Linked DNA regions of Homo sapiens. The protein of the gene in region 1 interacts with the protein of each later gene in a pairwise test. Each region holds a gene or a part of one and is shown in the gene's direction. Other genes may lie near its edges.

Region 1 (3,820 bases):
TTCACCAGCATTTGCTGCTTCACCTTACAATTTTATGCTCTGAAGATGGCTTATTTCCTTAAACATCATGAACCAACCTCTGCTAACTTCCAACTTTTCTTCTGCAGCTTCTTTACCTCTCAGCCTTCGTAGACTTGAAGAGAGTTAGGGCCTTGCACTCGATTAGGCGTTGGCTTAAGGGAATGTTATGTCTGGTTTGATCTTCTATCCAGAACATGAAAACGTTTCTTTACCAGCAATAAGCCTCCTTCGCTTTCTTATCATTCGTGTGTTCACTGGAGTAGCATTTTTACTTTCCTTCAAGGACTTTTCCCTTGCATTCACTACCTGGCTGTTTGGTGCAAGAGCCCTAGCTTTTGGTCTGTCTCGGCTTTCAATATGCCTTCCTCACTAAGCTTAATCATTTCTAGCTTTTGATTTAAAGTAAGCTTTTGATTTAAAGTAAAATGATTCTTTTACTGGAACACTCAGAGGCCATCGTAGGGTTATTAATTGGCTTAATGTCAATATTGTTGTGTCTCAAGGAATGGGGAGGCCCAAGAGAGGGAGAGATATGGAGGAAGGTATAGGGTTGGTAGAGCAGTCAGAACACACACATTTATGGATTACAGTCGCTGTCTTATATGGGTGCTGTTTGTGATGTCCCAAAGTAATTATAATAGTAACTTCAAAGATCACCATAACATATACAATAATAATGAAAAAGTTTGAAATATTGTTAGAATCACCAAAATGTGACAGAGACATGAACTGAGCACATGCTTTTGGAAAAATGGCGCCCACAGATTTGCTTGATGCAGGGTTGCCACAAACCTTCAATTTGTTAAAAAATGCAATATCTGGGAAGCACAAAGATGTATGCCTGTTAAAGGTTTTAAAGAAGCCATTTTTTTTAAAAGAGAAAACTTTTAAGAAGCTTTACAGATAGAAGACAGTAAGTATTTGTTGACTAAATGGTCAAGTTGGAGTGAGCAGATTTTATAATTTTATTCTACTAACCACCACCAGCAATTTTATTTTTGATGCTTGTAGATGGACAGTGGTGCCAATGTCTATTCGGCCTTCTGTTTTTTTGTTTTGTTTTGTTTGTTTTTTCCTGCCAAAGGACGGTGCTTAGAACTTCCCAGTCTTCCTTGTAGTGGGGAAAATCTGTCACCCCAAGGATACGAATTAGGTAGAAAAGTAATGTAAGAGCCAATCACAACGCGCGCTCCGGAGCGGCTCCAGACTGGCTTCGCCCGGACGACTGGCGGAAGACGAGACTTCGTTACCTCCGTTCAATCGGACAAAGAAGGCCATAATAGTTTAGGACAAGAGAAAATTCCTTGTGGGTTAAACTGCGGTGGGACTGACTGTTACGCAGAAGGCGTAATCGCAAAACTTGTATACACTCTGTATCATGGATACATTATTTTCTGGAATCCTGCAGAAACGATCAGCAGTTGTGATGGCACCAGTACCGAAAATGGCTGTAAGGCGCTCCGGACGCTGGATCAGGTGACGCAGCATCAGGTGACGCAGCCTCAGTCCGCCCCCTTCCCACCAGTGGCTCCTCCTCCTGCTTCCCGGCGTAGCGGTGGGCGTGGCTTGCCCACAGGCTCTTTCTTCTGGGGCCGGGAAAACCGAGGAATACACATGCGCAGTTGGACCCCTCAGGCCCTTCGTGTCCCTTCCCACCCATCTCCCCGCCCCGGCCCTCTGGGCGGGGCTGGGCCGACAGTCCAGCTGCAGCTCGCTGGAGATTCAGTGACTTCCTTGTTGTGAGCCCCGGCCCGGCAGTGTCCCGACTCGTAGCCCCGCTGTTCTTAATCCGGGCCGCTAGCCTGAGTCTAGGTCGCAGCCGCAGCCCCACCCCGTCGGTCACCTTTTCAGCGCAGGTCCTTTCCCCGCACGCCCTGCGCTCCCTAACATGCCCAACCCCAGCAGCACCTCCTCTCCCTACCCCCTCCCTGAGGAAATTAGGAACCTGTTGGCAGGTAAAGAGCGGGAAGGCGGCGATAATGCTGTCGGGGCGGGGGCGAGGGAACGGTGAGCCGGTGGGGACAGAAGCATTCAGAGCCCTTATCCTCCCTCCCCGCGCTTCCCACGTCTTCTAGCCAGTGGGGTCGGCACAGGGAGGAGAGGAGAGGGGTTGTTTTGTCTCAGAAAGGGAGTGGACGTGTGTGTTGAAATTTGGTGCGGGGATGGTGGCGAAGCCCTTTTTGGTGATCTACACAAATGGGATCAGGACGTTTCTATGTGCATTGTGAAGACGGTGTGTGTGTGTGTGTGTGTGTGTGTGTGACAGAAGGGCGGGGGAGGAAGAGTGGAAGAGGGAGAGAGAATGATAATGATAATGAATGCTGCGTGAGCAAGCAGAAGGGAGCAGAAGTCAAATAAGTAGTTCTTGGGTGGTCTGGCCAATGGAGGTAGAGGATGTAGAGATGCAAAGAGCTGTCAGAGCCACAGGTGTTAGGGGTTATGGGGTGAAAGAGTTTGTCATTTCTAAAACTCCCGTTTTTCTTAAACATTCAGCTCACTCACGTTTAAGACTTTTGAAGAAGGTCTGGTTCTCAAATGGCCACTTGTCCCCAGCCTCAGTAATATATTAAAGCAAAAAAGGAAGGATATGTTAAAGTTCTACTTCCTGTGTGACACGATGAAAGTACTTCATCTTTGTACCCTTATCTTCCCTTTTTCAGTTTTACATTACCATTTATAGGAACTTATTTTAGGAGCTAAAAACGTGGTTCTTCAGTAGCATTATGAATCCACTACTAGTTCATTAATTTACTGGATACGGAGGTGTGTATGTTCACTAAGAACCAATAATTTATATTTCTGTACAAGGTAGAAAATATATGTTTTTAAGGTAGCACAAATCTTACCTATCTCAATGTTCTGGAATTTCAACCATCATTTATTTTGTCTTGTGTACGTCAGAATTCTGGAAACTGAATTTTGATTTTTAGTTTTAGATGTCTATAAAATATTTATCTCTCAGTATTGCTTATGAATAACTAGATTACAGATTGCTTATTCTAGCTCTTAAAAAGCAATGTCATCTAAAATGTGACATTTGATGACACATTTTATATGTTACTCCTATAGCAATGTGAGTCCAAATCTCCTAATATTCTGTCATTCAATTTTGGTGCTTGGCATTATTAATATGGTAGTGTAATATTAAGTGTATGAATGTAGACTTATGTTTGTATGATTATGGTACAGTATGTTGAATGCATTTGTGGTGGGATAGTCTTTCACTCTAAGAAATGCTTGTTGTCATTAACGGGTACCACTAAGGGAAATAGTTAAAGAAGTCTAAAGACTGACTTCAGGCAGCTTTATTGCATCACATGACTACTGATTTTGTTTTACTACACTTAACATTTTTTGTTTTTACAATGCTGGAATTGTTTGTTCAGAATATTATTGTAATAACCAGCGCAGAAAAATGTTTATCATTATTCCAAAAATAGATGAAACCATTTTCAGGATATTCTATGTCTGTATTTTTGAATTTAAGAAATAACATATAGACCTCTGGGTGCATGTTTTAAAGCTTGGTACCTCCCATAGTACAGTTTGTTATTTGGATCCATAATCATAAATCACAGATAATATGATATGTAGGTCATGAGAACCTTTATTCTCTTATCCCCATAGATCACAAGTATTTCCTGTGGCCCTTATTTGTGTAATTTAACTAAAAACTCAAAATTACATATTTAAATTATCTGCCAATGCTAACTTCCAATATATTTCTGCCTTCTCTCTTTAGTCAGGTAATATACTAGCATAGCATCTGAAATTATTTTAAGTCATTTTATTGACATTT
Region 2 (3,820 bases), on another chromosome or scaffold:
ACTGGCTCCTCTGTCTTCCTCCTCATCCCTCCTCCCATTTCCTAAGAGAAAAGCATTCTTATCTCCATCCCACCACTCTGTTACCCCAGGCACATTGGGCCACACTTGAGCATGTGTACGCATGCACACACACATCCCCACATGCCCCTGCCCATACAAAGAAACACACTTGCCTGCACACCATGGCCTAGTTGTTGATTCCAAAAGCAAAGTCATCATGTCATTGCTTTCTCTCTCTCTCTCTCTCTCACACACACACACACACACACACACTTCTGTGTTTACGCACACTCTCCCTGCCTCTCACCACATCCCAACAGACACATCCTTCTCCACCAAACAGCCCTCCCCACCACACCTCTTCCTCTCCTGGACAGGAGGGATATTCCGGGTTCTTGCTTTAAGGCTGAAGTAACAGTGGTGGGAGTGGGGACTGAACCCCAGATTGAGGAGGGGTCAGGGATCCCTATCAGACAGAGAGACTGGAACTGATAGAGGATGCTACCGTTTCTCTTTTTGTTTTTAAAAATCTTTTTCCACATGTTCTAAGATACTCAGTTTTTCTTCCTTTTTTTTTTTTTTTTTTTTTTTCTTGAGACGGAGTCTCGCTCTGTCGCCCAGGCTGGAGTGCAGTGGCGCCATCTCGGCTCACTGCAAGCTCCGCCTCCCGGGTTCACACCATTCTCCTGCCTCAGCCTCCTGAGTAGCTGAGACTACAGGCGCCCGCCACCACGCCCGGCTAATTTTTTGATTTTTAGTAGAGATGGGCTTTCACTGTGTTAGCCAGGACGGTCTTGATCTCCTAACATCGTGATCCACCCGCCTCGGCCTCCCAAAGTGCTGGGATTACAGGCGTGAGCCGCTGCACCCGGCCTTTTCTTTCTTTTTTTTAAAAAAAGTCATTTTCTGCAACAAAACCCACATTCTTTTTTTGTGTTTTTTTTTTTTAAGGCAGGGTCTTGCTCTGTCACCCAAGGTAGAGTGCAGTAGCTCAATCACAGCTCACTGCAGCCTCGACCTGCCTGACTCGAGGGATCCTTCCACCTCTGCCTCTGCAGTAGCTGGGACCACAGGTGCACACCACCACACCGAGCTAACTTAAGAAAAATTTTTTTTGGTAGAGATGGTGTCTCCCTATGCTGCCTAGGCTGGTCTGGAATTCCTGGGCTCAAGCAATCCTCCCACCCAACCTCCCAAAGTGCTGGGATTACAGGCTGAGCCACTGCCCCCAGCCAGTTACTCAGTTTTTCTAAAACTTGGGTGCCTGGGGGAGGCTGACACCCTTCCCACTCCTCTGAAAGGCAGTTTCCTAAGGGAAGGGTCTTCTGCTGCTCACCACCCTTAACAGCCCTGTGTCCCCAGTGCTCAGCCCCTGAGGAAGGGAAGGCGTGCTGACAGGGTCCATGTGATCCATGTCCAGTGGCTCTGGTGACAGCAGTCTGAAGTCAACTGGCTGTGAGAACTCGAGTAAGGCCAGTCCCGATCTGGTCCTCAGTGATGGAGAAAAGCCCCTCTTAACCTCCAATTCAATGATCCTAAAAGAGCAGGTGCTTCGGGGGTGCTGAAACTGCGCTTTTGGAGGGGGCTTTTGGGAAGGCCGGGCTGGGGACTCAGGTCTGGAGGGTGACAGAGCCGACCTCCCGTAAACCAGGGAGGAGGAAGGTGGGGGCGGGTGGGCCTAGGATCTGGGGGCGCCTCCTCGCTGCGGGGAGCTGGCTTGGGGCTAGGGCGTGACTGTCTCCCTGCCACCATCACCGCCCGCCGGCCGTGACTGCAATAAGAGAAGTCCGAGGCGGCTTCCTCCTCCCTGCCCAGCAGGGGCGGCGGTCAGAGGCGGGCAGCACCCCAGTTCTCCCCGCACGCCGGCACTCGCGGCTGCTGGAGCCCCGGCTGGCTCACCCCGGGGCCGGGCAGAATTGGGCTCCAGGTAAGCGACAGCGTCGGGTGGGGACTGGGCAGGTCAAGCAGTGCCCTCCCCCTCGAGGCTCTGGAGAGAGGACTGGGGGTACACGGGAAGAGAAGCCTGAACCTGGGGGTCGGGGGACACATGAGCAAGGTGACAGCCAAAGGGACCCCAGCCCGAAAAGGCCTAAGGAGGAAAACGGGCGACCTGAAAAGCAAGGCTGATAAACCTGGAGGAGAGGGCGGAGGGGAGCACGGGGGAAGCCGACCAAAGGGACCCCCAAAAAGGTCTAGTGGGTAAAATGGAGGGGACTGATAAGAGTTTAGGAAGGGGGCTGAGGTGGGGGAGAAGGATTAAGGGGAATCCCCAGGACGGTCTGGGGGAGAAACTGAAGGGATCGTGAGAGTGGGACTTTGGGGAGAAGCCGACGGGTCTGATGGGTCCAGGAGAGGGGAAATGGGTGGGGGTGCTGGAGGGAACAGGAGAGGGAGCTGGCGGGAAGGGGGTTGAGGAGAACGACTTCTGGAGGACGGAGAACCTGGGGTGCAATTGCGGGTCCAGGAAGTTCCCCTCTTCCGAGCCGGCCGAAGTCGGGGTGAAGCCCACAGCCCGCAGGGTAACGTTAGCGGCCGCGACCGCGGCCCCGCGACCCTCTCGGCCCGCCCTTGCGGTAGGTTCCGGGCTGCAGGGGACTCCTGCCGGGCGCGCGAGGCGTGGGTCCCCGCTTCCTGGGGAAGTCCCCGCCCTCGGCAGGGACAGGCCTCTCCGGGCGCCCCCTCCGCGCCCGCGGCGGTCTCGGCCCGCGCTCCCCGCTGGATCCGGGAATTGCTGCCGCCCCGACGGAAATCCTGCCTTTGACCGCGAGTGCCCGCAGGGGCTGCCTCCAAGGCAACGAGAGGGCGGGCCGCGCTGGGCCGCCGCGGGGCTCCGGGTGGGCGCAGCCCCCTTTGCTCTCCGCCTTCGCCCCCTTTTGGAATCCTCGGTCTGGTGGGTGGGGGGTGGGCTTCCCGACCGAGGTAGGAGGCGATGCCGCTGTGTTCAGGGATCCTGGGGTGGAGGATCTGCTGTTTGAGAGACCTGGGTTCTTAGCAAGACTGGGCCCTTAATTGCTGTGTGACTGTGGGCAAGTTACAGGGCTTCTCTGGGCCTCACTTTCCTCATCTGAACTATGGTGAGAAATGATCCTTGTGTCCACTCTTCCCCCACGAGAATCAGGTGCAGAAAGCAGTTTTTGCTGAGTGTCCTGAAGGGTTAAGGGCTATCCCTGACTCAGCGAGCCTCCCCTTCACCTTCTCAAAAACATGCAGAGGAGGCCAGCCTGGGCAGCACAGGGAGACCCCCGTCCTGTCTCTACAAAAAAATATAGTTAGCCAGAAGGCTGGAAGTGGTGGCACCTGCTGTAGTCCCAGCTACTCCAGAGGCTGAGGCCGGAGGATCGCTGGAGCCCACGAGTTCAAGGCTGCAGTGAGAGCTCCTGGATGAGAGAGTGAGATTTTGTCTGTAAACAACAACAACAACAAAAAGCATGGAGGGGGACCAGACTGCCCGGCTCTCACTGACAGGGCCTCCAGGGACCAGCACACAGTTGGCGTCTAAATAGTTTATGGCTCTGATGAGAGCCCATACTGGGGAGGTCAGCAGAGTTAAAATCTGTCTCACACCCTCTCTGGTGCTGCATCCAGTTGGCCGCCCCTCGGGTGTGTACTCTCAGGGGCCCTGATGTCCTTGGCATCCTTCCGACTGTGGTGATGATGGGAGAGCAGGACCCTGTTCCCACTTCACAGATGGGAAGATGGAGGTTTGGGAGTTGGCAACCTGCAGGGCCAACAGTAGGGACCAGAATTCCAGGACATCTCGTCTCTGATGTAGCCTGAGCTGAGGCCTGAATCCTTACCTCATCCCTACCAAGTTTCATGT
Region 3 (3,600 bases), on another chromosome or scaffold:
CTGGAGTTGGCTACTCACTGGCTGAGTGACATTGGGCAAGTTACCTAAGCTCTCTGATTGCAAGAACCAGCTACCATTGGTGCTGGGCTCCCTGTTTTACTAGCACCTCTCACTTAACCCCTGGACTGTGTCATGGAGCAGGAGTGGAGGTGGGGGCCCCATAGGATTATTATCCCCATGTTAGAGAGGTGGAAACAGGCTCTGAGAGGAAATGATTTGCCTGAGTTGATTCAGTGGAGCCTGCATTCAACCCTTTTGTGCCTCTGAACTTCAGTTTCCTTTTCTGTAAAATGGGGATGTCATACCCACCTCTAGAGTACAGATAATCTGTGTGTTATGTCTCGCCCAGGCACACTGCCGCAGCAGTTATCGCTTCTGTTGGTAGAGGGGCCCAGGCTGGGGCCCAGCCCTTTCCGGGTCTTTGGTGGGCGGTGGGGTGGGGACCAGATCCAGTCAGCAGGGGGCCTGTGTGTGAGCTGGGAGTGGGGACAGGGTCTTGGATCCCATTGAGGAATATAAATTTTGAGCCCCAGGCTGAGGACTTGCCTGGCCTCCAGGCCCTGGAGCCACTGTCTCCCTACCTGTTGGCCTTTCCATTGCCCAAACCTGCTTCCCCATTAGGGAAAGTGTGGGAAGTTCCAGGTCTTAGTCCACAGGGTCTGGATTTCACCTCTGTTTTCCCTTCTTCCTCCTGGCAAGGGGCCTTAAATTGCCTGAATCCAGCTAAGCCCAAAGCATTTCCCAGCCCTGTCCTGCATGCAACCTGAATGGGGCTGAGGAGGGAGGAACTGACACTGAGCTCTCGCAAAGCTGGGCAGTTAGTGGCCACCAGGCACCTGTTTGCTGTTGGGTAGGTGTGGCTGGAGACAGCAGACAGTGACATTGGAACCTGAGGCCAGTTTAGAGCTGCTTTGGTGTTTGCTGTGTTTTTGCCCAGTAGACGGGGGTTCCTGGGTTCCTGGGTTCCTACCCCCTCCACCCGTACCCCACCCACCCTGGACTGCAGCCTGGGAACCCCGCTTCACAGTCTGCCCCTCTAGACAGCAAAGGCCCCATTGTTTCCAGGTTGGAGTAGGGTCTGGGGGAACTGGACCTGGTTAGATCCTGGACCCAGATCAATAGCATATTTCCCCCACCCCCAGGAACCCCCGAGATGGCCCAGAGACCTGGTGGTGGCAGCATGGGTGGTGTCAGTGAAGCAGGCCCAAGGCCCCACCCCTACAGCACCTGCCGTCCTGGCTGGAGTATTTCCCTGTGTGCTGGGTGCCTTGGCAACAGCTGGGTACACCGCTCGCCTGACCCAATTTGAGCAGGTAGAGCAGGTGGTGCATCAGGCTGTTGCTCAGCCTCATCTTCCTGAGGCCTCCTTGAGAGCAGCGATCCTCACGCTGCTGTGCTCTGAGCTCCTGCACTCTGTGCCAGGCAGGGTGCTGACTGTTTTGCAACTGGTATTTCCATGAATCCTCTCAGCCATCCAGAGAGGCACCAAAGCCAGAGAGGTGAGTGCCAGAGGTCACCCAGGTGGTAAATGGCAATTCGGAAATTAACACTTTTATCGTTCTATAAAGCGCCCTTGATTGTACGCATTCTGTATGCTAGGGGCTTGCCTAGCCCCTCAAATAGATGATTATTTGAGGCCCTGCAGTCACCTACCCCATGGGCTGATGGCATTACCCCACTTACAGGTGAGGAAGCTGGGGTCAGGACAACTGAAGTGACTGGGTCTGTGCTACTCAGCTTGAAATTGCAGAGATGGGATTTGAATTTGGGCAGGTCCAGCTCTAAGGCCCTGTCTTGCCTTGATGGCAGTGGGCCGGAAGCAGCTGCAGACCCGTGTGACAGCCCCAGACCTTTGAGAAAGGCTCCATTCCATGGATTGGGTAGTTCAGGAAAGTCCAGAGCTGAGCAGTTAGGAGGCACCATGGTAGGTTTCGTGAGGTCCAAGGAAAAGTGTCCCCAGGACCTTTCAGGGGGTGGGGCTGAAGTCACTGCTGTGGATTTGGGGCCAGGCCTGGGCTGGCACTGGGGCATGGTGAGCATTTGTATTCTCCCAGGCATATGTATCCACATAGGGGGGCCTGGGAGGCTTTCCCAGGGGTCCCGGGAGGGAGGAAGAGGTCCTAGCCAAGTCTGGTGAGTCGGGGAGCTGCCATCCTGTCCAAGGCAGCCCTTGGGCAGGAAGAATCTCAAACACCCAAGAGATCTCTGCTTGCAGCTGGCACCAGTCCTGTGTCTGCCTCATGCACGTGGCTGGTGGTGCCAGGGGAGAGGAGTACAAGGGAGGCACTGACTTACCTCATAGCAAGTATTTTCTGGAGGAGATGGGCAGAGAGCATTTTCTCAGCCAACAGATGGGGAAACTGAGGCCTGCGGCAGAGAAGTGACTTGCTACGGCCACTTACAGGAGGAGCTGATGGCGTAGCTGAGTGGACTTGGGCCTGGCTCTGACCTCTGTCCCCTGTGTCTTAGTAACTCTCTGTATGAAGGAGGCAGGCTGGGCCAGAACGGGGAGGGGGTCCTTCTGGGGTCCTCTTGTGCTCTGTACTTGGGTGCCAGACTGTCCAAGAAACAGACAGCCTGTGACTTGGAGGCCCCTCTTCTGGCCTTTCTTCTTTGGTAGGCTTGAATCCTCAGTGGGCTTTTGATTTGGGCAGTCTTTGGTGGGCGCGTGGCCGCCCACCACAAAGATGCTGCCTGCCTTCCATGGCACGGCTGGGATGGTGGCCCCGGAGGCACAGGTGGGGTTCTTTTAGTATGAAGAAGGCCTTGGCCAGGTCAGTGCCGCGCTGGGGGCCCCACGCCAGGCCCAGTCCCTGGGGAGGCCAGCCTGGCCGGGTCTTTCCTCACACTCCACACACTTGTGGCCAGAGCCTCCACCCCCCTGGTCCCTCACCCGCCCTTCTAGGAAAAGGCTGTGGAATGCTGGTTGAATCCACCTCCGGGGGAGGCCTGCTCACAGGCACAGTGTGGAGCTCCAGGAGGGCAGGATGGAGATGGACACAGAATTCTGTCCCTTGGAGCTGAGTGGAGCAGGGGCCGTGGAGGTTCGATGGGATTCTTAGATTGGCAGGGCACCCACTTTCCTTCACAGAGCAGGAGCTCTGGAGGCTGAGCACACTGGAGAGGGAGAGGAGGCTGGTGGGCACGTGTGCCTGTTCCACTTTCCCTGAACACACGCTTTGTCTTGGGCTTCTGGAGGTGATCATGATTAGACAGCCCTGTTTCCATGGAGCTGCCAGCTAGGTGGGGGCAGTGAGCTTGGTGGGCATCGTGAAAGCTTCAGAGCAAGGCAGATCTAGGGCATATCCTTCTGCATCCCACTGGATCCCGGCAGGCAGCTGGGGAGGCATTTCCGTCCAGGTGTCTGTCCATTTATTTGACAGATGTGGATTGAGCACTTAACTCAGGCTGGGCATGGTCCTTGTCCTCATGTGGCACATCACTGAGTTAGGGAGAGCTTCCTGGAAGAAGTGACCCTTCCTGGGAGCCTTGAAGGCAGAGGGGAATTGGACAGGAAAGAGATCGGGATAAGCCTTTGGCATAGAAGCCCCTGGCCAACAGGCACTTGTTCCCAGGGTCAGGCGAGGAGCTGGGGTATGG

Evidence for each region.
Region 2: the proteins of SKAP2 (region 1) and FGR interact in a protein complementation assay, tested with the Homo sapiens proteins (one study listed by BioGRID).
Region 3: the proteins of SKAP2 (region 1) and EEIG1 interact in a protein complementation assay, tested with the Homo sapiens proteins (one study listed by BioGRID).

What each region holds. Positions count from the first base shown.
Region 1 is NC_000007.14:26,862,519-26,866,338, reverse strand, and holds the start of SKAP2 (src kinase-associated phosphoprotein 2), read left to right. Parts: upstream 1-1,748; 5' UTR 1,749-1,909; coding exon 1,910-1,976; intron 1,977-3,820. UniProt on the Homo sapiens protein: May be involved in B-cell and macrophage adhesion processes. In B-cells, may act by coupling the B-cell receptor (BCR) to integrin activation. May play a role in src signaling pathway.
Region 2 is NC_000001.11:27,633,172-27,636,991, reverse strand, and holds the start of FGR (tyrosine-protein kinase Fgr), read left to right. Parts: upstream 1-1,806; 5' UTR 1,807-1,927; intron 1,928-3,820. UniProt on the Homo sapiens protein: Non-receptor tyrosine-protein kinase that transmits signals from cell surface receptors devoid of kinase activity and contributes to the regulation of immune responses, including neutrophil, monocyte, macrophage and mast cell functions, cytoskeleton remodeling in response to extracellular stimuli, phagocytosis, cell adhesion and migration.
Region 3 is NC_000009.12:127,974,390-127,977,989, reverse strand, and holds part of EEIG1 (early estrogen-induced gene 1 protein), read left to right. Parts: intron 1-3,600. UniProt on the Homo sapiens protein: Key component of TNFSF11/RANKL- and TNF-induced osteoclastogenesis pathways, thereby mediates bone resorption in pathological bone loss conditions.